Regions from separate parts of the Homo sapiens genome. Here region 1 is linked to region 2. Evidence: fine-mapped expression QTL. A gene starts in region 2. The other region holds a variant in brackets. All regions are shown on one strand. Distances are between the middles of the regions. Region 1 overlaps C1QTNF3 (C1q and TNF related 3). Region 2 holds the start of AMACR (alpha-methylacyl-CoA racemase).

Region 1 (11,072 bases), 28 kb after region 2:
ATGTATATATGTTCCCATCATATTTAAAAGTAACATGTATATAAGTATGCATAAATCTGAAAAGTTACATAACTGTATGTTAACAGTAATCATCTCTTGGCATGTTTTATTATTTTTGGCCCAGAACTTTTCTAATTTTTTTTAACAGTGAAAAGATATTACGTAAATAACCTTGAAAAGGTAAAAAGGAGTGTTTGCAGTTATCTAAAATATAGAAAAATGGTTTACTAAAATTAGCAATCTTTTTGAATATTAGAACAGCAAAAATTTCTCAGCATGATTTTGGATGAAAAAATGTCATCTTGGAACTGTAAAGTTTAGAGATGGGAGAATCCAAGAAGTCATTTAATGGTCAACACCCATTTCTGGGAATGGTTACAAATACTTTATGTGTAATCTTTTAAGGGACTTTGAAAGCCTCTGCTTAATCAGTAAAAGATCAGCAAAGAGAATTAACTTGAGAAACCTGCTCACGGTGGCAACCAAGAGGCTCTATGAGTTTGGGAATAAGGCTGTCTATTTGGGTCCAAAGATATGAGATTAAGGTCCACCTCTCTTAATTCTGTCACTTGGCAATTGAGTAATTAGTAATTGGGCCTCAAATTTCTATATCCCCTAAGTGGAGAATGGGGTAGTACTCTTCCTCCTCTTGCCACCACTACTACTATTGTTGCCACCTCTATACTACTAATATCCAAAGACAGGGTTGAAGTTCAAAATACAAAATGTTAACAATAATTTTAAAAGCCTTGAGACAATTCCGCCTGTCAAGAAAACTTTTGTCACTATTCACAATAGCAAAGACATGGAATCAATCTAAATTCCCATTGATGATAGACTGGATAAAGAAAGTGTGCTACATATACACCATGGAATACTGTGCAGCCATAAAAAAGAATGACATCATGTCCCTTGCAGGAACATGGATGGAACGGGAGGCCATTATCCTTAGCAAACTAATGCAGGAACAGAAAACCAAACACTGCATGTTCTCATGTATATGTGGGAGCTAAATGATAAGAACACATGGACATATAGAGGGGAACAACACACACTGGGGCCTATGGGAGGATGGAAGGTGGGAGGAGGGAGAGAATCAGGAAAAATAACCAATGGGTACTAGGCTTAATATCTGGTGATAAAATAATCTGTACAACAAATCCCCACGACACAAGTTTAACTATGTAAAAAACCTGCACATGTACCCCTGAACTTAGAATAAAAGTTAAAAAAAAAGAAAAGAAAAGAAAAGCTTTTGCTTAAAACCACCATTGAAGAATGAGCTGTGAAAGTCAAAGTTAATCCTTCGTCCAAATGAGTCATTGAAACTGAGTGTAAGTTAGATTAATAAATTCTTTAATTTGCTGGGACCTTCAAAGAATGTGAAGTTCCCTCCTTCACAATCTGTGTAAGACCCAAATGATTGTATTGTGATTTTAGGGTAAAATAGCTGATGGGACAAATTTAATAATTGCCCAGAATGTTCTCTATCAAACTGGCTACTCTAGGGCCCCTTCTCCGTGGTTTACCATTCATAGGTTATGGGTTAGAGTGTCTAGCTTTGAGATGTTTATCTTCTGTCTTATTAAATACCTTAACCTGGCTGAGTGGCATCTCTAGCCTTTTTGTTTGTAAATTTATATTGGCACATGGATCCCAGGTTGCTGAAATTATTAAACAGCATTTGGCTAGGCACAGTGGCTCACACCTGTAATCCCAGCACTTTGGGAGGCCGAGGCAGGCCGATCACTGGAGGCCAGGAGTTTGAGATCAGCCTGGCCAACATAGAGAAATGCCGTCTCTACTAAAAATACAAAAAAATTAGCCGGGCATGGTGTCACGCACCTGTAATCCCAGCTACTCCAGAGGCTGAGGCAAGAGAATCGCTTGAACCTTGGTGGAGGCTGCAGTGAGCCAAGATCACACCACTGCACTCCAGCCTGTGCACACACACACAAAACAAAACAAAACGGCTTTCATTTAAAAGTTGCAAAACCCACAAATGAGAGTAACACACTAACTATTCAAGCTATTTTAAACTTGAGAAACCAAGGCCCAGAAAAATGATGGAACTTATACAGGGTCAAACCACCACCATACACGCACAAATGAAAGACAGTTTCCCCCTAATTGATCTTTCAGGCAAGAATCGCTTTATAGTCTAGTTCTTCAAAAATCTCTCATGTTGCAGTACTTTATCTCAGTTACTTTATTTTTATCCACAAGTTACTTTTTTTGGGAAGACACTAGTCAGAAAGAAACTTAATTTTTAAAAAATGCTAGTTTTCAATGCTGATAGAAGTCCCCCAGAGGGGATCCATTTCAAAATATTAGCCCTCCTCCACCTTCCAGAAATAACCCAAAGTTAGTAATTTTCCTTGTGACCTAACCTCACATTTACAAGTTTAAGATCGTGTTGGCAATAAGAACTTTAATGATCATTTAAAAGAGAGAGAAAGAATAGGTAAATGGGTACTTGAGCCTGGAAAAAAATGTACAGTTTTAACCTCATAAATTGATTTTTTAAACTTTATGCTGAAATGAATGTAATCTGGTCTGGAACACTGAGTGGATGGCTCAAAACTGAAATTCTCCATTGATAAAGAAGATTCTGACAAGAAAAGCTCAAGTAAAAATTATACCACAAGGTCAAGTGTGGTGGCTCAAGCCTGTAATCCCAGCACTTTTTTGGGAGGCCGAGGCAGGCAGATCACTTCAGGCCAGGAATTTGAGACCAGCCTGGCCACCATGGCAAAAACCCGTCTGTATTAGAAATACAAAAATTAGCCAGGTGTGGTGATGCATGCCTGTAATTCCAGCTATAGGGAGGCTGAGGCAGGAGAATTGCTCAAACCCACGAGGAAGAGGTTGCAGTGAGCCAAGATCGTGCCACTGTACTCCAGCCTGGACAACAGAGCAAGACTCTGTTTCAAAAAATAAACAAAAATTATACCACAAAATCTGAGTTGAGAGAAAACAATATATATCAATATTTATGTATGGATTAGTATATGTAAATATAACAATGTTAATAAATACAATATTATAACTAGACATTTCATCATTCCATTTATATACTTAAATGTTTATACATTCAAGTTGGCCCAAACCCTTATTACATCTTATTACATTCTTAAAACATCTTATTTGGGAAAATAGGAGATAAGTTTATATTTAGGGTTGCCTTGGATTTGGTTCTATGAGGGACTTAGATTTCACCCTTCATAAATGTCTCTCCTCCCTAAGAATAGTATCTAAGTCCTCCTTTTGGACAGTATGGGCCTTATGCAAACATCCTGTGATGTAGATGAACAAACTGAGACTCAGATTTACTCAGGATTGGGGAAGACTTGAGGAAGCGCTCGAACATCCTGATTCCTGGCCCCTTTTGGTCAGGCAGGTTGGAAAGCCACCAGGAGATGTACCGAGGATGGTTTACCTGAAGTTCTGGTGGAATCCCCGGGTAGCCCTTCTCTCCTTTGGGGCCATGCTGCCCCCGCTCCCCTCGAGGCCCCAGGTCACCTTTGTCGCCCTTCTCACCTTTGGCTCCTTCATGACCAGTGGCTCCATTGTTGCCATTGTTTCCATGGTTTCCTTAAACAACCAGACATCATCACATGAGAAAACCCAGTCACTCATACTTACCATCCATTTCTAGACATACTATCCAAACTCAATTATGAAAGGGGACCATTCAGAATAATCCCAAATATAACCAAGGGGTATCATCATCTAAATAGGGCAATAGGCTCTGAAAGAAGCCTTAGATACCCTAAAGCTCCAAAGCCTGTTTATCCTTTGAAGCGAGGCTTGGAGGAAAAATTGTGTACAATTCTGATTATCACATTATCATTTAAAATAGCAAAGATTGGAAACCACCTATATAATCACCAATACTAGGAGGGCATGACATATTCTAGAAACTATGTTATATAGTCATAAAAAAGAAGGCTGAAGAAAAACATTTAATGATATAGTGATATTCATGATATTTTTAGATTTTAAAGTTATAAGTGGCCAGGTACAGTGGCTCACAACTGTAATCTCAACACTTTGCGAAGCCACAGTGGGAGGATCACTTGAGCCCTAGAGTTTGAGACAAGCTTGAGCAATATGGTGAGATCCCATCTTTACAAAAATAGAAATTAAAAAATTAGCCAGGAGTGGTGGTGCACACCTGTAGTCCCAGCTATTTGGGAGACTGAGGCAGGATGACCTCTTGAGCCTAAGAGGCCAAGGCTACAGGGAGCCTGGATCATGCCACTTCACTCCAGCCTGGACAAAAGAGCCAGACTTTGTTTCAGGCAAAAGAAAGTTATGAGTAAATAGAAATAACATGATACTATCTTTGTTTGGAAAAATATGTGTTTATGTATTATATCCATAGGGAAAAAAAGACAAGAATAAGTTACAGAAAAATATTCACAGAGGTTCTTTTCTAAATGTGGAACATGAGTAATTTTCATGTCATTCTGTATATTTTTCTGTTTCTTTGAAGTTTTCTACAAAAAACACATCACTTTTATAACTGGGGAAAAGGTAAACTCATTCATTAAACAAATTACAGCAATGATTTTGAAAGCAAGAGTTGGAAAACAATTTTAACTTTTCCCTTTGCCAACAAGAGACAATTTCTACACCTCTTCTTTATTTTTAATATTTGCTAAATTTCAGGCTTTTTGCTGTTCATTTTGCATGCTACCCTTGGTTGGTTATCATACCAGGCTTACAACCCTACCAAATGGATGAACTTTGACTGTGTTTACAAATTAATGTGTTCAGTGACAAAGCCATTTCCTGGTTAGAAAACATTTAACCAAGGCCAATCTTTTGTGTAACCTCACAAGAGTTAAGACCTGAGAAGATTTTACAAGGGTCGAAGTAGGCCCTACCCCTACATCATTGCTCCTGCTGGCTGCTGTCCTTGATGGCCAATGACATAGATTCCAAGCCAGTAAGTGTAGTTTAAAGTTTAACATAAGATTTTCTTGCTGTAAATTTGGTTTTGTGCAAGAAGCTACTCAAAAGTAGAAAAAAAATTGAACCACATTTGATAAATATTAACATCAATGAGAGTAAGTCACAGAAGAGCCAGTGGACTTTGGCCAGACCCTGAGATGAGGTCCTACCCTAGGGATTAACCTGAGGATGAAGACAATAAAACCCAAGATAGGCTTGGGAGCCCCATATTGAGGAGACCTGGGCTACCCTTTCCTGGACTGACCCAGGGTACCAGCAGGCCCGCGGCACTCTCCTATGCCTGGTGGCATTGGCACAGTACAGATGACTGAATTGCTGGTCTAGTGGGGTCTCATGTAGCTCCAGAGCATTCCCCATACCACTACATGGTACTGGAGCCTAAAAATGTTTCCATGAGGTCAAGAGTGGCATGAGAGTCAACTGAGAGACGGCTGAACATGGAGAGATCCTGAGACTGGAGGAAGAAGCACTTAGCTGGACCTAGAGTCACACAGAAGGATGCACAGCTCAGTGACTGGCATTGAGATGGCTGTAGCCCAGAGCAGTAAGCTTTTGGCTCTACTCTGCCCTTCATAAAGCA[T/C]GCTGTGGCAGATATACTGGAACGAAGACTATGACCTGGTCGTTTCGGACTCAATGCTGTTGAGGAGCCTCCCAGCCTATGAACCTGGTATTCCAGGGTGCCAAGAGTCTAGCGGATCCTTTGGATCACACAGAAGTGATCCCAAATTATTAAGGTTTGCCCTTTGCTCCTACTTTAGCTCAGGCTGCAATTAGATTGACAGTATGTCTTGCTCATCCTTACCTGGAATGCCAGGAGGGCCCGGTGGCCCAGGGGGGCCTTGGTAGCCTCGAAAGCTGTAGTCTCCATGACAACACTTACTGCAGTCTGGGGGTAGTCCTCCGGTTTGTGGAGACTAAAAAGACAGAAAGAGAAGCTTCAGAAAAAAAGGTACTTGTGAGCAATTAGGATTTTTAAATTTCCACTGGCCTTGGCCCTTAGGTAAGCTTAATTCCAATCGAATCACAGCAAGATCACAAAAGATGGGATGGGGTGGAGATATCAATGGCAAAGGGTCAGGGAGTAGCTAAGGTCAGTTGATGATCAAAGGAAAAGGCAACAAGAAAGTCAATAGAGGAAGATGCTCTTTGAAAAGCGTGTGGGTGGGGGTGGGAAGTTGGGTCCTATTTCTGGAAAGTGCCTTCCTGCTGCTACTGTAACAGCAAAGGAAGAAACTCCTTCAGAAGTGGACTTGGAAGCCTTTTCTCTTTTCCAACTGCCATAGCCCCAGATGTAGCTAAATTGAGTAGATGGTCCTCAAATTACAAGAATTATCCACTTTAAGCACTGTTTTTAAATGCTTACTATATCCATGATACTGAGTTAAGAGCTAGATTAAGATCTCTTAGAAATTCTGAATAGTAACACTAGTTTTTCAAACAGCCATAGCACACTTAAATTGTCTTAGAAAACGAAGGAAATAAAGTATTTTTTAGTCCAATACATTTATTTACTTATTTAACTGACAACTAGAAATTATATATATATTTATCACGTATAACATGTTGTTATAAAATAAGTACACAGTGTAAAATACTAAATTGAGCTAATTAACATATGTGTTGTCTCATATACTGTTTTTGTAGAGAGAGCACTTAAAATCTACTCCTAACAATTTTCAAGAATATAATACATTGCTATTAACTATAAGTCCAATACATTTTTATTAATTATCTACATCTTGAAACAACTTTAACTTTATCAGTAAATCAACTATTTAACATGATTTCTATTTCACACATTCCACTTTAAAATGTGAAATGATTGGGCTGAGCATGGTGGCTGATGCCTGTAATCCCAGCACTTTTGGAGGCCGAGGCAGGTGGATCACCTGAGGTCAGGAGTTGGAGACCAGCCTGGCCAGCATGGTGAAATCCCATCTCTACTAAAAATACAAAAATTAGCCAGGCATGCTGGTGCATGCCTGTAATCCCAGCTACTTGGGAGGCTGAGGCAGGAGAATCACTTGAACCCAGGAGGCGGAGGTTGCAGTGAGCTGAGATAGCACCATTGTACTCCAGCCTGGGCGACAAGAGCAAGACACAGTCTCAAAAAAAAAAAATTGTGAAATGATTATCTCACTGTTTGAACCAATGTTTAATAAGCACTTAATGGGTACTAAACATGCTCAAGTATGACACTGAGTGAAATGCTTATTTATACAAAGATAAATTTCTAAAATGTATGTTTACCGTCAAAGAGCTAAAGACCTAGTGGAAGTTGATTGACAGAAGAGTTAAAGTTGCTTATGAAATTTGAACTCCCATCTAAACTGGCAACTTGCCTATTAATTATGTCATACAAAATACTTGTGGAAATGTTCCTAGACATCAATTATAATTCAACGGTCTTTTGAAAACAGCATGTTGTTGCTAAGAGATTCATGAAAAAAATGAAGCAAAGGAGAGAAAAAGGAGGCCAGGGAAGAAGAGAAAGAAAAAGGAGACACAGAGGGAGGAAAAAAGAATTTAAAATTCAAGTTGTATTTGTCACTAAAAATTTAAGCAGAGAACTGGATCAAACTTCACACAGTTAAACACTTAGACCTTACTTTCTTTTCTTTAATAAAAAATGGGCTTGAATTTTGTTCTCACTCTCTCACTGCTTTGTCCTAAAATTTTCCACCAAGCTATTCAGGGAAAACACAGAACAGAATCTGTAGCACAAGCATTCTCCTGCAACCTCTCAGAACCCAAGTCTTGCCTGATCAGGAGCTATAACTTAGAGCTAACTCCTAGTCTTGTCTTCAGTCTACCAGGCTCAAACCTGGACAAGAACTAGAGTCTATGAAAACCTTCTGTCAAATTGGTAGGGGAAGAAAAGTCAACTAAAGCCATTGGTTTGAGATGAGGGATTTCATCTCAGGGATTTTATCTGAGGGATTTCAGGACACTTGGAAAGTCAAAGACACCACGGCACACCCCACCTTCTAATCCAAAACTGTAATCTGAGAAGGAAGGATTCCATATTTCCTGTTATGGTTTTGCCAATGTGAAATTCAGCCTTTTAAACCTCAGAAAATCCAGGGCTCTGCCAATGATGAATTTTAAGGATGGAGAAGGGAGGGGAAGGAGGGAAAATCCTCAAGTGGAACCATCGATATAGGAATGGAATGGAAATACTGAGATGCTTAGGAATGTTGAAACACCCACTGGACTGAAACCAGAATTTCCATCATGGTGCTGTGTGACCTTAGAGAAGTCGCTGTTCTCCAGACATCTTTTTTTGTTTGTTTTGTTTTTGGCTATTAAATCAGAGGATTGGATGAGGTGGTGTTGGTGCACAGAAAATGACTCTTCAAAATACGTGCTTCAGCGTGTTGAGTGCTTTGGAAATGGAAGGCTTCAGAAATAAGCCACGAAGATAAGGTGAGCACAGGGAGGATGGAAGGCTCTGCAGAGCAGGACAAAAGCTTGCTTGATCTTGATTTTCAGTATGAATGCAGATCATGAGAGAGGGGCCTCATGATCCTTCTGAACTTAGGTGTTTTAAGAAAGACGTATTGGAAGAGCTATCACAGGGAAAACTGACTTGTGGCAAATCTCTTATTAAAAAAAGAGAGAGAAGCCTCAGATCCAAGGTCTCTCTCTGACCTTTCCCTGCCTCCCAGTCTCTCTGATCTTCTTTCCAGAAGTGCCGGGAGGGACTCTGTCTGGAATTTCTTTATTTGACTAAGAAAGCATCTTTCCAAAAGAAATGCAATTGTCTTAAGACCCCCTCCTTAGGAATCTCATCAAATAACCAGGAAAGATTAACCACTGGAGAACTGAAGAGACTGGGAGTCATCACAAGGCTCAGACAGGCTTTTTTTCTATTTCCTGAGGGAAGCTAGGAGCCATAATCTGGGAAGCTTTAAGACAACCTCTGTTCACAGTAAATTTCTCTCCCTTCCCTTCTTGATACTGTTACAGTAGGTAGCTACTCAGACATGAGCAGGGTAGGGGAGGGCTCCACCTGACCGGGAATATCAGGTGATCATCAGGTGATGATCAAGTGGCTTTTAACTGTTTCTCTAAAATAATAATTGGTTGCAGCCAGTGCCGGGTAAAGGCAGTCTTCCTAAAGATAGCAAAAACCTGAAACTGGTTATCGGCAGCTTCCCAATAAGATCTCAGGAGTTGCGCAAGTGGGCTCAAGCATGTGCATTAAGAGGCAAAATGGCAGAGTTTAATTGGCAAATGACCTCCTAGGAGCATTTGGCTGGTAAGGGAAGAATACCTCAAGTGAGCATGGTTACAACTCCAGTAAACATACTATGCATGCTCACCTCCCAAGTAAGTGCTGGCAGGCCACTACACATGTGGACAACCCACCCCAAGGGAAGAATCAAGGGAGAAGTAACGCAAGACCCCAGAAGTATGCCAACGTAAAAAAACCCCAAGTCAAAAGGTCAAACCGTGCACTTGTCTTTCAAGTTGCCCATTTAGCCCTTTCCAAGTATACCTGCCTTCCTTTTGTTCCTGCTCTAAAACTTTTTAATAAACTTTCATTCCTGCTCTAAAACTTGCGTTGGTCTCTCCTTCCGCCTTATGACCCTCAATGGAATTGAGGAGCCAAGAATTGAGGTTGTTGCAGACCCGTGTGGATTCACTTTTGGTAACAGCACCTCCCTCAGGGCTCAGAGGAACTTTGTAATTTACTTCTACATTCCCCAACTCCCTGCTACCCTACGTGGAAGGGTGTGTAAGCATGCATACCACATTGGGCTATTGGGAAATCATCCCCATGCGGTATGTGTGTTTCTCCTATTGATCTGCCTTTGGACAGTTAATTTTCAGAGAATCTTCAGAGGATGAAACAAGAGAAGATTTCCCACTTTTCCACTACAGTCGTCTCGCATTTTTTTCCAGCTCTACAATGCAAAGATACTAAAGTATTTTCCAAAGCCTCAAATAATAATTTAGAAACATTTTGTTTTTAGTATCTAGGCACAAGAATTCAGCTCCAGGAGATGAAGTTGCTCAATGCTAGAGCCAACTAGGATTGGAAGTGCAAGACCAAGCTACTTGAGGGCACTTTGAGGGCACAGAGCTGCCACCAGAACAGTGAGAGACTTCTGGTTACTACTAGTCGAGCACCTCGTGAGAACCCTTCAGCAGCATTGCATTACACGTTCCTTCCTCTGGCCTTGTCTTTCAAAGTTCAGTTGAATGGAGCAATGCTTTTGCATTGTTGAGTCTTTTGTTGGAACTCTTAGAACAAGTTGGAAGGGATGTGTTAATTCAGAAGTTTTCTCCTAGGTAAGGGAAAATTACATGTAGGTAGTTGCTATTTATGACCTCCTTGTTTATCATCCCCTTTCCCAAAAGCAGGACAAATTTGTATGCAAAAGGCAGGTAAATTTGCAGCATGCGAGAAAGAGTTTGTCTCTAAGAAATGCTCCATCAATTTTGCAGATGGAGGCCTAGGGGTAGGGATGCAGAACTGAGCTCTACTACTAGTAAGTGACTTCTAGGAAGGAGAGTCATAGCTCCTTTTTTTAAACCTCCTGCCCCAAAAAAAGGGAAAAGAAAGAAGAGGAAGGGAAGTGGGAGGAGGGAGAAATGGGTATCCGGGAGAAGGAGGGGAGATTGACAAAGGTGAATGAAAAAGAGGCTACAGAGAAGAAAATACCAGGAAAAAAGAGCCCAGGTCTGCCCACCCCAGATCTCTGGCCATTGTACTCCACCATGAACCCACAGCTGGAGCATCTTTCCAGACCATATATCTGATTACCTCACTGTCCTGCTATGAACAAACAAAACCTAGCTAGCAAAGCAAAATCTAAGCTCCTAAACCAGCTAGCAGAATCCTTCTTGGCACTAAAGTCGTGTAATGTCCCGTCGTCCCCCCAACCCCCACCCCTGCATCCCCAACCCAGGAGCTTCAGCCACAGCCAACTCCTCACAGGCTTTCCAGTCTCTGTTGCAGCACTTTTTTTTTTTTAATTTGCTGTGGATAGTCATTCTTTTAATACCATCTTTTAAGATCCAGCTCAAAAACTATCAGTACTTTGACACTTTTGCCCAATTGCCTTTCATGTACTGACTTTATT
Region 2 (11,072 bases):
AGTAGAGATGGGGTTTCACCATGTTGGCCAGGCTGGTCTCGAACTCCTGACCTCAGGTGATCCACCCACCTCAGCCTCCCAAAGTGCTGGGATTACAGGCGTGAGCCACCATGCCCAGCCAACCTTACTATCTTCTAATCATTATATAATTCTGATTAGCTACATTCTGCTGAAAGCAGCAATCACCTTTTATTTATATTTGATGATAATCAATTGCATCTCTTCAGTAAATTATTCAAATTATTACTAGAGAAGTATCTAGGCTCAAATTCTCCTTAACACTCCCAAGACTCCATGTTTGCTCTTAGTTCATTCCTTTTGGACCCCAGGGACCATGCTCTTGGGGCAGCAGGGGAAGTTGTTGAAAGCAGTGGCTTTAGGGTCCAACTGCCTGGGGCAGTGCTTCGGACCCTTTCCCGTCATCTGCTTTAGAGGAAGGCAGTTAACCTCGCCAAGCCTTCAAGTCTTCAATGCCAATGATAGTAGCACGTCTCCCTCAGGGAACTGTGTGGATCACAGAAGCCCTGTGGAAGGTACCGGTCTTGAGTTTGGCGGGTACTGGTATAAATCCGGTGCTGCTATCTCATGCAGCGACTATGCCATGAGTACGCCAAGAGCTGGCCCACAAAAGATAAACCACACTCCCCTGCTGCTGGTACACACTTCAGAGAGGGCACACTGGAAAGTGTGAGATGTGCCCTGATGACAGTGTCCCACAGGCACACACTCAGTACAGGGCTGGTCATGATTCACCATGAACAGGAGAAGGAAGCGCAGGCTGAAGCTTTGGAGATGAGGGGGTTTCTGGTAGAAAATGGATTTTGTGAAGATCAGCCAGGACCCAATCCAGTTGACACTCTCAGTCTCTAAACTCTTGAGGTATCCACCAACATTTGACCCTCTGACCACTCCTTTCTTTGGTTTCCATGACAACACTCCATTCTGCTTCTCTCCTTAGCTGTCCTCAGCCCTTGCTTCTCTTTTCTGCCCACGCATTCCTTAAATGCCGGTGTTCTATCCCCTTTCCTAGTGGATCACATAGTCTCATATGGCTCCCAAATAACTCCGAAATCTGTTTCTAGTCCCTAACCTCAAGTATCCCACCTGGATATCTGAAAGGCACTTTAAAACTGAAAAGACCAAAACTGAGTTCCTTTTCTTCTAGTAAAAATAACCACAATGACAAACTTTTACAGAGGGCCCACTGTACGCCAGGCACTGTTCCCACACTGAACAATGGATGAACTCATTGAATTCTCATAGCAACTAACAATGCTATGAGGTGGATGTCATTATTATCTCCATTTTACAAAGGAAACTACAGCACAGAGAGGTTAAGTAACTTGCCCAAGATCACAGAGCTAGTAAATGGCAGAGCTGGGACGGAGGTAGTCAGCTGCCACTCTATGCTCTGACCACTGTGTTCAGCAGTCTTCCCTCAAGACACTAGCAGGTCATCTAAGCCAGAAACCTGGGAGCCAGCCTCAACTTCTCCCTCTTCGCTCCCTGTCAGTCCATTATCAATTCCCAGCAATTTTATACCTCAAATGTCCCTTCAATGCAAACCAACTCTACCATTAACTGCTTTAGTACTTGCCCTGATCTCTTCAGCAATAACCCAGTCATTGGTCTCTGTACCTCCAGTCTTGTCTCCTCAGATCCATTCTCCATCCCACCTCCAAATGTCTGTGAAAATGCAAACACGCAGTGGTGGTGCTGGAGTGGGCTCTCTTACCCACTAGCTGTGAGATCTTGAGCAAATGGCAATGCTTCCGTTCCCTCCTCTTTAAAACAACAAGGTATTCCAAATGCAGTTTTGAGAATAAGAAGAAATCACACAGGGAATGTGCTCAGCAGAACATGAGGCAAGCACTCAGTGGATGACAGTGAACAAACAGAAGTGTTATGATATCAGAGCATCCCCTATAAAACGCAGCAGGAAGGTTTAGACAGGGAGGTCCATTTGACCTTAGCATTCCTAAGAATTTTCTCTACCAGCTGAGGGAGACTTCTTGAACTTTTTTTGAATGACGACTGCTTGAAAATGATATACTAAGCACAAGAGATACTTGGGGAAAATTGTTGAAATATTTAGGTTGGCAAATATTTGGCAAAACCTGCAATTACTTTTGCACCAACCTAAAACAACGTAGGAATCACATGAGTCACAGAAAGTTCAGAGAACTGACTCCAAGGACAGATGATCAAAATATGACATTCTAACAGATATATAAAAGACATAAGTCTATTTTAAAAAGAAAAGGATATCCTTGGTAACCTGGCTTGAAACTTCAAATGTCATTTATCTCTTGTCTTCTTCTTCAAAAAAAGGATTTTAAGCAGCTATATCTTAAACTTAGGGACAAGTGGCAGGCATCTACCCCAATTAATACTTACCATATTTGCATCAATGACCTGACCCTTGCCAGTGCGTGTGCGGTCAAAAAGAGCCATTATAATGCCCAGTGCACACATAAGGCCACCACCAGCAAAGTCAGCCAGGAGATTCAGCGGGGCATACGGATTCTCACCACTTCTGCCAATTTTTGAGAGAACACCTACATCATTAAAAACAAATTTAATGTCTCTTTTAAATTTAATCTCTTCTTAAAATAAATATGTGAGCATCTTAGAGGAATAATCAATCTCTCCAGCAGATAATCTAAGTGAAAGCTAGTATACATCACTTTTCCAAATCTGAGCTTAGTCAGTAAACTCATAAACAGGCTTTCCCTCAAGACAGGATCCTTGTTTTGTTGTTTTCCTCTCTAAAACCTATTCCAACCAACATTTTCAAATATTGCTAAGTTTTTACTCACTTACTTTTGGAAAAGAAAATGATTATTTATTTTGTGGTTTTAAAACAGTAAATGCACTTTCATTCTTAGCATAAAGAAATGTAAGAAAATACTTGCAGACAAGAAAAAAAAGGAATTTAATTTTTAAGTAGATGTGAAGAGACAATTCTATACCCACTTCTTTCCTCAACTTTTAAATGTGTACTCACAGAAAATCTGAAATGTCCTATAGTCAACAACACATGGTTCTTAGAATTCTGGAATCAGGCCTATCTCACATGTCGTCACAGGCAAAAACTCTAATAAAGTGATATTAGGACCTGAAAACCATGGGCTTTTTTTAGTGCTCATAGAAGTCTGAAACAATGACTCAGGCAATGATTCTCAATATGGTGGGTGGAGATTTCGGGGTCCGGGGGAGAAGTAGCTGTCAGAATCTAACTATGTCAACATTTTCAAACCACAGAGCAACCATCCGTAGTACCCAGTAAGCCTCTTAATTCCTAGCAGGGGTTTGTCTGAGAATTGACTCAACAAATGTAGTAAATAAATGATAGTAGTGGGCATGTATTAACCTTCCAACCTGTTAAGGGATGGGGTGAGGGAAGGTTGAGAATGATTGTTTCAAGACTCAAACCGATCCATTTTGAACACCCATGCTCTCTTGATTGATTCTGATAAATGTTTAAATTTTTACCTTTACAAATTATTGTTAATCAACATACCTGTAGATCTTGATGGAATAAATTAAAAGTGTAGACTAAATTTTTTTTCAACATACCTGACAAAGCCAAATAGTTGATATCGTGGCCAGCTAACCGGCAGAAGCTTCCTGACTGGCCAAATCCACTCAGCCTGGCATAAATAAGCCTTGGATTTTCCCGCTGCAGAATCTCTGGGCCCAGCTGGAGTTTCTCCATGACACCTTAAGAGAAAAGTAACGATCTTCTTAAGAGAGTATGAATTGAGGATGGAGATAATCCCTTCTCTGAGACAAACATAAAATAGCACCATTGCAAGTAATATTAATAACATTTGCTGTAGGCTAATGGCATGTTTACAGCAGTTAAGGACTCAAAGAGTGAAGCCACCATTTCTGGAATGTGTGGCTTCTTCCCAGGATGTAATTTCTCCCAGTACATCTCTGTTTCCCTCTAGGTTTATCCAAGCCTATTTATTCAATCCCCAGAGCAGGGTCTCATCCCTTTAGTAAATCCCTTTTCTCTTTTTCTATACCGCATCAGTGTTTACCACATCCCACCTTAGCTGCACTTGCTTGTACATGCATACACTTATCTTCCCTATCAGCTCATGAGCTCCTCCTGCAGAATTTACACCTGATGTTTCCACAGGCGCTAAAGTGCCTAGCATCAGTACCTTCACGAAAAAGTTTAGCACCCATCTGTAGAAAGAGTGGTTAGTGACAATAGCACCTGAGAGTTTTTAAGCTATCAACAAGTATAGTATTTATAGCACAAACCCCAGGTAACCAGCACCTGAAATTTCCTGGGATTAAAAGTAATCAAAATTACATAATAAACTCACTATCTTTACCTTCCTAAGGCTAAAATAAATCACAGAAAACCTCTAGTCATCTACCTAAACACCAGTCACAACTCCTCACCCGGAGGCTATATCCGTATTCCCAGCCGACCTTCCTCCTAATTACAAGACCTTGGACAAGCCTCCCTCATCTTAAATGGAGCATTCTTAAATTATTACATAATCTTAATTATTAAATCATTATTGTTACAAGCCTCAAATACAGCTGTGAGGGTTAAATGAGTTAACGCATTTAAATAAGCCGGCTGTGCCGTAGGCATTCATTCATTCACCATTTACCGATTTCCCACTATAGACCAGGCAATGCTTTGGATTTCTACTTGAACAAAGTTATTCTGGCAGCTGTCTGAGAATCCACTGGAGTGATACCAGCCCCAAACACCAGTTTTTAAAAGGCTGTCACACCAGTGTCAAGGCAGTTGCAGCAGGTATGGAGAGAAATAGTCCGAGTGGGCTAAGGAGCAAAATGACTGTATTGATGATCATTGAAATTGGATGTGAAAGGAAGACTGGAGTCCATGATGAAGTACAAGTTTGAGATTCAGGCATTCACTGAAATAAATAATACAGAAGGTGGAGATGCTGTTTTAGAAGGAAGAAGGAAAGGCTCATTTTGGGATTTGTGGAAGCTGCCTGGCGGGCAGCCTTGACGGCGATGCCCAGGACCTGTGTATGCCAGCGTCTGCCGCTCTGAAAGGGGGAAGTCTACAAAAAGGTGAAAATGATGGGAATGGGTAACTGGGCTTCAGGGAGCAGATGCTGAGACTTAGAACGCCAGCATTTCAGGCAGGGAGGAGCGTTAGCCTGGGCCCGTGGATGGCTTGAGGGTACAGCACTCCAAAACGGTAGCCGAATGACCGCCTATATGCAGTTTTCCAGGAAGGGAATCCTATGGCTTTCATTAGATTCTCACAGGGTTCAAGACCCTCAATTAATTAAGAAAGGCAAATACGGAACGTTTCTTAGAAAAAAAAGGAGGAATTTGGGAAGGAGTCAGAGAGGCAAAAGGAGAAACCGGGCAACAGCAGTATCTCAGAACCCAAGTTTTGGACAATCCAGTTTGGGAAGAATGATCACTAACAATACCCTAGGAGGCAAAAATCTGGAAGGCTGGGGCCGACAAGGGTTCTTGCGGCAACAGGGCAAAGGTGTGGCGGGTGCAGCCTCGATCGAACGGCCAGGCCCCTCCCCTCCGCGGGAACTTCCCGAGAGCAGCCCGCGGGGCCCGGGCTCACCGCGGCGGAAGGGCTCCAGCAGCACATCCGACCGCTTGCACAGACGCCGCAGCACGGCGGCTCCCCGCGGCTGCTTCAGGTCCAGCACTAGCGAGCGCTTGCCCCGGCCCAAGCGGCTCACGTCGTAGCGGGAGCCGGGCCGGTCCACGCGTACCACACGCGCCCCGAAGTCAGCCAGGACCATAGCACAGAACGGGCCCGGGGCCAGGCCGGACAGCTCCACGACCGAGATGCCCTGCAGTGCCATGGCGCTTCCCAGTGCCCCGCTGAAGGAAACTGAGCAGCCCTTAGCCCCAGCCCAGCAGCCTGCAAGAAGCCCTCCCAATCCCCGGCGCCACGCCCCCAGCCGCGGCGCCGCGCCCCAAAGGCACCACCCCCGTCCCTCTTTTGCGGGCCTGCGCAAGCCCGCGGAGTCTGCGCACTGGGCGCTTCCCCACCCCCGGCCTCCCGGGACCGCCAGTGCCAAATGCAGTAGGTTGCTTTCCTTTTTGTGCAACCTAAATTCCTGAGTCTTAAATTGCAGGGACTGACCTTTGGAGCTCCTGCCTGTTACCGTCCTCTCTGGACGCTTTTATTGTACCAGGGCGATCCCCAGCCCAACTGTACCATTCGAGTCCCTACTCCTGCCTTGCTCTAGGGAAATAAAATAACGTAAACACGTAAGAACAATGCGAAAGCGTTTTCTTCCCTAGGCTGCAGATTGTCTTCTTCACCGCCCCTGCTTAGCTAGCTAGCTAGCTGGGAATTTAATCCAGAAACGGCTTGCGATACCTCCTAGATGCACTCGTTTTGAGTTACAAACTCCGCGGATTACATGTCTTTTTAAAAAAGTTTAGACTACACTAGGAAAATTATTTTAGTATCAGAAGAATATCAGGGGTGTAGTACTCATCAGAGCTAAATGAGAGCGCTTTAAAAATGTTAGTTTGTCTTCCGCCATTTCTACAGAAAGCTGCAATTTCAGGTTTTCAACCTAATAGGTGATATTTAAGAAAAAAAAAAAGCAATCGCAAATAGCCCCACTGCTTTTACAAATCATTTTTTCTCTTCTAGGTATAGCCTGTCAGGTGGCCTAATGTAATTTTTGACATCTCTAGGAATTTTAATAGAACCAGAAATGGGTGCCAGAGATATGCCTGCACTAATCTTAAGTGGGGATTTATGTATTTCTCAAGCAAGTGATTAAAGCAAAACTAGGCACGATTGAAATCAAGATCTTTTAGGCAAGAAAGTCATGATGAGTTTTAGAATTATTTTAGGACTCTGTGGCTTTCTCTTCATAGAAATAGAAAAAAAAATTGTATAAAACCACAAAAGGTCCTGAATAGCCAAAGCAACACTGAACAAAAAGAACAAAGCAGGAAGCAACACACTACCAGAATTCAAATTATACTACCAAGGTGTAGTAACCAAAACAGCATTCTATTGGCATAAAATAGACACAAAGACCAATGGAACAGAATAAAGAACCCCAAAATAAATCCATATATTTACAGCCAGCTGATTATCAATAAAAACACCAAGAACATATATTAAGGACATTCTATTCAATAAGTAGTGCTGGAAAAACTGGAAATCCATATGCAGAAGAATGAAACTAGACCCCTATCCCTCACCATACACAAAAATCAACTCAGAATGGATTAAAAAACTTAAGACATACAACCCAAAACTATAAAACTACTATAAGAAAACAGATAAAACACTTCAGGACATTGACCTAGGCACAGATTTTATGACTAAGACTTCAAAAGCATAGGCAACAAAAACAAAAAATAGGCAAATGGGACTATATTAAACTAAAAATCTTCTGCACAACAGAAGAAACAACAGAATAAACAACTTATTGAATAGAAGAAAATATTTTGCAAATTATTCATCCAACAAGTGACTAATATGCAGACTATACAAGAAACTCAAACAACTCAACAGCAAAAAATGAAATAATCTCATTAAAAAGTGGGCACAGGATCTGAACAGACATTTCTCAAAAGGCATACAAATGGCCAACAGGTATATGAAAAAATGCTCAACATCACTAATCATCAGGGAAATGCAAATCAAAACCACAATGAGATATCATCTTACTTCAGTTAGACTGGCTATTATCAAAAAGACAAAAAATAACAAATGCTGGCAAAGACGCAGAGAAGAGGAACTTATATATACTGTTGGTAGGAATGTAAATTAGTTTAGCCATTATGGAAAACAGTATGGAGGTTTGTGAGAAAACTAAAAATAGAACTTCTATATGATCCAGCAGTCCCACTACTGGATATATGTCCAAAAGTATCGGGGGAACCCGCCCCCAATATTTCAACATAGGTTCTTTCTATTTTCCCTAAGTGTCGGCCAGTCTGAGAAATAAAGGGAAAGAGTACAAAGAGAAGAATTTTACAGCTGGGCCACCAGGGGTGACATCACATATTGGTAGGTCCGTGATGCCCACCTGAGCCGCAAAACCAGCAAGTTTTTATTAAGGATTTCAAAAGGGGAGGAGGTTTAAGAACAGGGAGTAGGTCACAAAGATCACATGCTTCAAAGGGCAAACAAGAAGAACAAAGATCACATGCTTCTGAGGCCAATAAAGATCACAAGGCAAAAGGCAAAATCAAAAACTCCTGATAAGGGTCTATGTTCAGCTGTGCACATATTGTCTTGATAAAAATCTTAAGAGAAATCAGTATGTCAAAGGAACACCTGTACCCACATGTTTATTGCAGCACTATTCACAATAGCCAAAATATGGAATCAACTTGAGTGTCCATTACTGGATGAATGGACAAAGAGAATGTGTACATATACACAATGAAATATTGTTTGGTCATAAAAAAAGGATGAAATCCTGTCATCTGCAGCAACATGGATGGAACTCGAGGTCATTATGTCAAGTGAAATAAACTAGACACAGAAAGAAAAGTATCACACGTTCTCACTCAGATGTGGGAGTTAAAAATTTAATCTCATAAAGAGTAGAATGATGGGGGGGCAGAGATGAAAAGAGATTGGATAATGGGTATGAACATGTAGTTAGAAGGAATAAATAATAGCTAAATAATAGTATTTGATGGCACAGTTGGGTGACTATAGTTAACAACAGTATATGGTATATTTCAAAATAGTGGCCAGATGCAGTGGCTCACACCTGTGATCCCAGCATTTTGGGGGGTTGATGCAGCAGGATCACTTGAGGCCAGAAGTTCGAAACCAGCCTGGGCAACACAGTGAGACCCCATCTCTACAAAAAACTTGAAAAATTGGTGAAACCCCGTCTTTACTGAAAATATGAAAATTAGCTGGGCATGGTGGTGCGCGTCTGTAATCCCAGCTACCAGGGAGGCTGAGACAGGAGAATCACTTGAACCAGGGAGGCGGAGCTTGCAGTGAGCTGAGATCGTGCCACTGCACTCCAGCCTGGGCGACAGAGCAAGACTCTGTCTTGAAAAAAAAAAAATCTTGAAAAGTTATCTGGATGTGGGGTACACCTATAAACCTACTAACTCATGAGGCTGAGGTCTGAGGATCACTTGGGCCCATGAGTTTGAGGCTTCAGTGAGCTATAATCACACCACTGCATTCCAGCTAGGGAGACAGAGTGAGATCCTATTCCAAAAAGAAAACAAAACAAAACAAAAAAACAAAAACAAACAAAAAGCTAGAAGAGAAGATTTGAAATGTTTCCAACACAAAACAATGATAAATGTTCTGGGTGATGAATATCCTAAAAACCCTGATTTGATCATTACACATTGTATGCATGTATCAAAATATCACATGTACTCCATAAATATGTACGAATATTATGTATTAATAATAAATCAATAAAAATTTATATGTTGAATCCCTAGCCGTCAATACCTCAGAATGTGACTGTATTTAGAGATAGAGCCAAAATGAAGTCATATGGGTGGGCCCTCATCCAATATGACTAATATTCAATCCTAGTATCTGTAGAAGAGGAGATTAGGACCAAAAAAACACAGACCTAAGGGAACCATGTGAGGACACAGTGAGATCAAGTGAGGACACTTGCTGTCTTCAAGCCAAGGAGAGAGGCTTCAGAAGAAATCAAACCTGCCAACATCTTGATCTTTTATCCTCCAGAACTGTGATAAATTAAACTTCTATTGTTTAAGCCAACCAGTCTGCGGTATTTCATTGCGGCAGCCTTAGTAAACGAATAACCCCTCTGCCCAAATTACAGATGAAGTCTCTAACGAGGTTCTCAGGTCACCTAATAGACTTCATTTTATATCTCAGAGAATTGCTTTAGCTATGGAACCATGCTTCTTAGATTCCGGGTTTATTTACCATAAATAATCCTTTGGCCAGGGATATCTTGTTAAGTGCATTCAGTCTTTCAATTCTCTTCCTCCTAGACAATATCATGCATCTATTTACACAAAATCCAGTTAATATGGAGATTCACTTGCCTTTTTCTTTCTCTTTCAGGGCATCCCTGTAGTAAGGGGGTAAATGCATCATCATGCAAGCTGCTTTTAAACTCCTTCCATAGCTAAAGTCTTCTTTAACTTTCACCTGTAGTGAGATTTCTTTGCCTCCCCCACCGCAGCATTCAAGAGGTAAACACAGCCAGGTGCGGTGGCTCATGCCTGTAATCCCAGCACTTTGGATGGCCGAGGTGAGTGGATCACTTACGGTCAGGAGTTTGAGACCAGTCTGGCCGACATGGTGAAACCCCATCTCTACCAAAAATACAAAAATTAGCTGGCCATGGTGGCCCCCGTAATCTACTCCAGAGGCTGAGGCAGGAGAATTGCTTGAAACCAGGATGTGGAGGTTGCAGTGAGATGAGATCATGCCACTGCACTCCAGCCTGGGTGACAGAGTGAGACTCAGTTTAAAAAAAAAAAAAAAAAAAAAGAGACAAACACTCCCATGACTTTGATGTATGTCCTACAGTCCATTATATCTATCTGCAGACATAGCTGTACTATTTATATACTATGTTTTGTTTTGTCAAAATGTTATTTTGTTTTTTATTTGATAAAGTATATTATATTGCATTTATTTTTCTAAACTACCTTACCACTCAATTTTATGTTAACTGGCTTCCCATTTCTACTACTTCCTCTTAGATCCATCAGGATTCTTGGCATAAATACAAAAAAAAAAGTTCACTGGAAGGATACCAAGTAGCTCATAGAATTGCTGGGAAAGCCAGAATTCAGGCAATTGGCAGGGCACAGAATAGTTTGAGCTGCTAGAGTCACATTCAAGGTTGCAGCATGAATGTCTGGTTAGGATGGAGAGTCTGCACAGAGACTCCACTCACCCCTGCCCTGCTGAACTCCTGCCAGCTGTGCAGGATTGGCACCAGCCTAAATCTGACCCAAATGGGCAGAGGGACTAACTTGAAGGGCTTCCCACTGACAATTAAGATGGAGCCTGTTAAACTAGAATAATGACTGTGGTGGATTAAAACACATCAAATACTATGAACATTCATGAGTTC

The links. PIP is the estimated chance that this variant, and not a neighbour inherited with it, causes the effect.
Region 1: its variant is the best candidate, but not a certain one, in a credible set for the expression of AMACR in lung (TOPMed, PIP 0.60).

Annotation. Positions count from the first base shown.
Region 1 is chr5:34,029,865-34,040,936 of GRCh38, forward strand. It overlaps C1QTNF3 (C1q and TNF related 3), which reads right to left. Exons shown (of 6, transcript NM_181435.6): 2 at 5,783-5,894; 3 at 3,440-3,594. C1QTNF3-AMACR (C1QTNF3-AMACR readthrough (NMD candidate)) reads right to left here. Exons shown (of 9, transcript NR_037951.1): 2 at 5,783-5,894; 3 at 3,440-3,594. Among named protein-coding and RNA genes, the nearest start is that of C1QTNF3, 7.8 kb to the right of the region's middle. The variant T/C (reference allele first, on the strand shown) is at 5,561.
Region 2 is chr5:34,002,177-34,013,248 of GRCh38, forward strand. AMACR (alpha-methylacyl-CoA racemase) reads right to left here and starts at 5,874. Exons shown (of 5, transcript NM_014324.6): 1 at 5,597-5,874; 2 at 3,580-3,723; 3 at 2,398-2,558. The coding sequence starts at 5,843. C1QTNF3-AMACR (C1QTNF3-AMACR readthrough (NMD candidate)) reads right to left here. Exons shown (of 9, transcript NR_037951.1): 7 at 3,580-3,723. RefSeq lists a silencer at 6,011-6,090.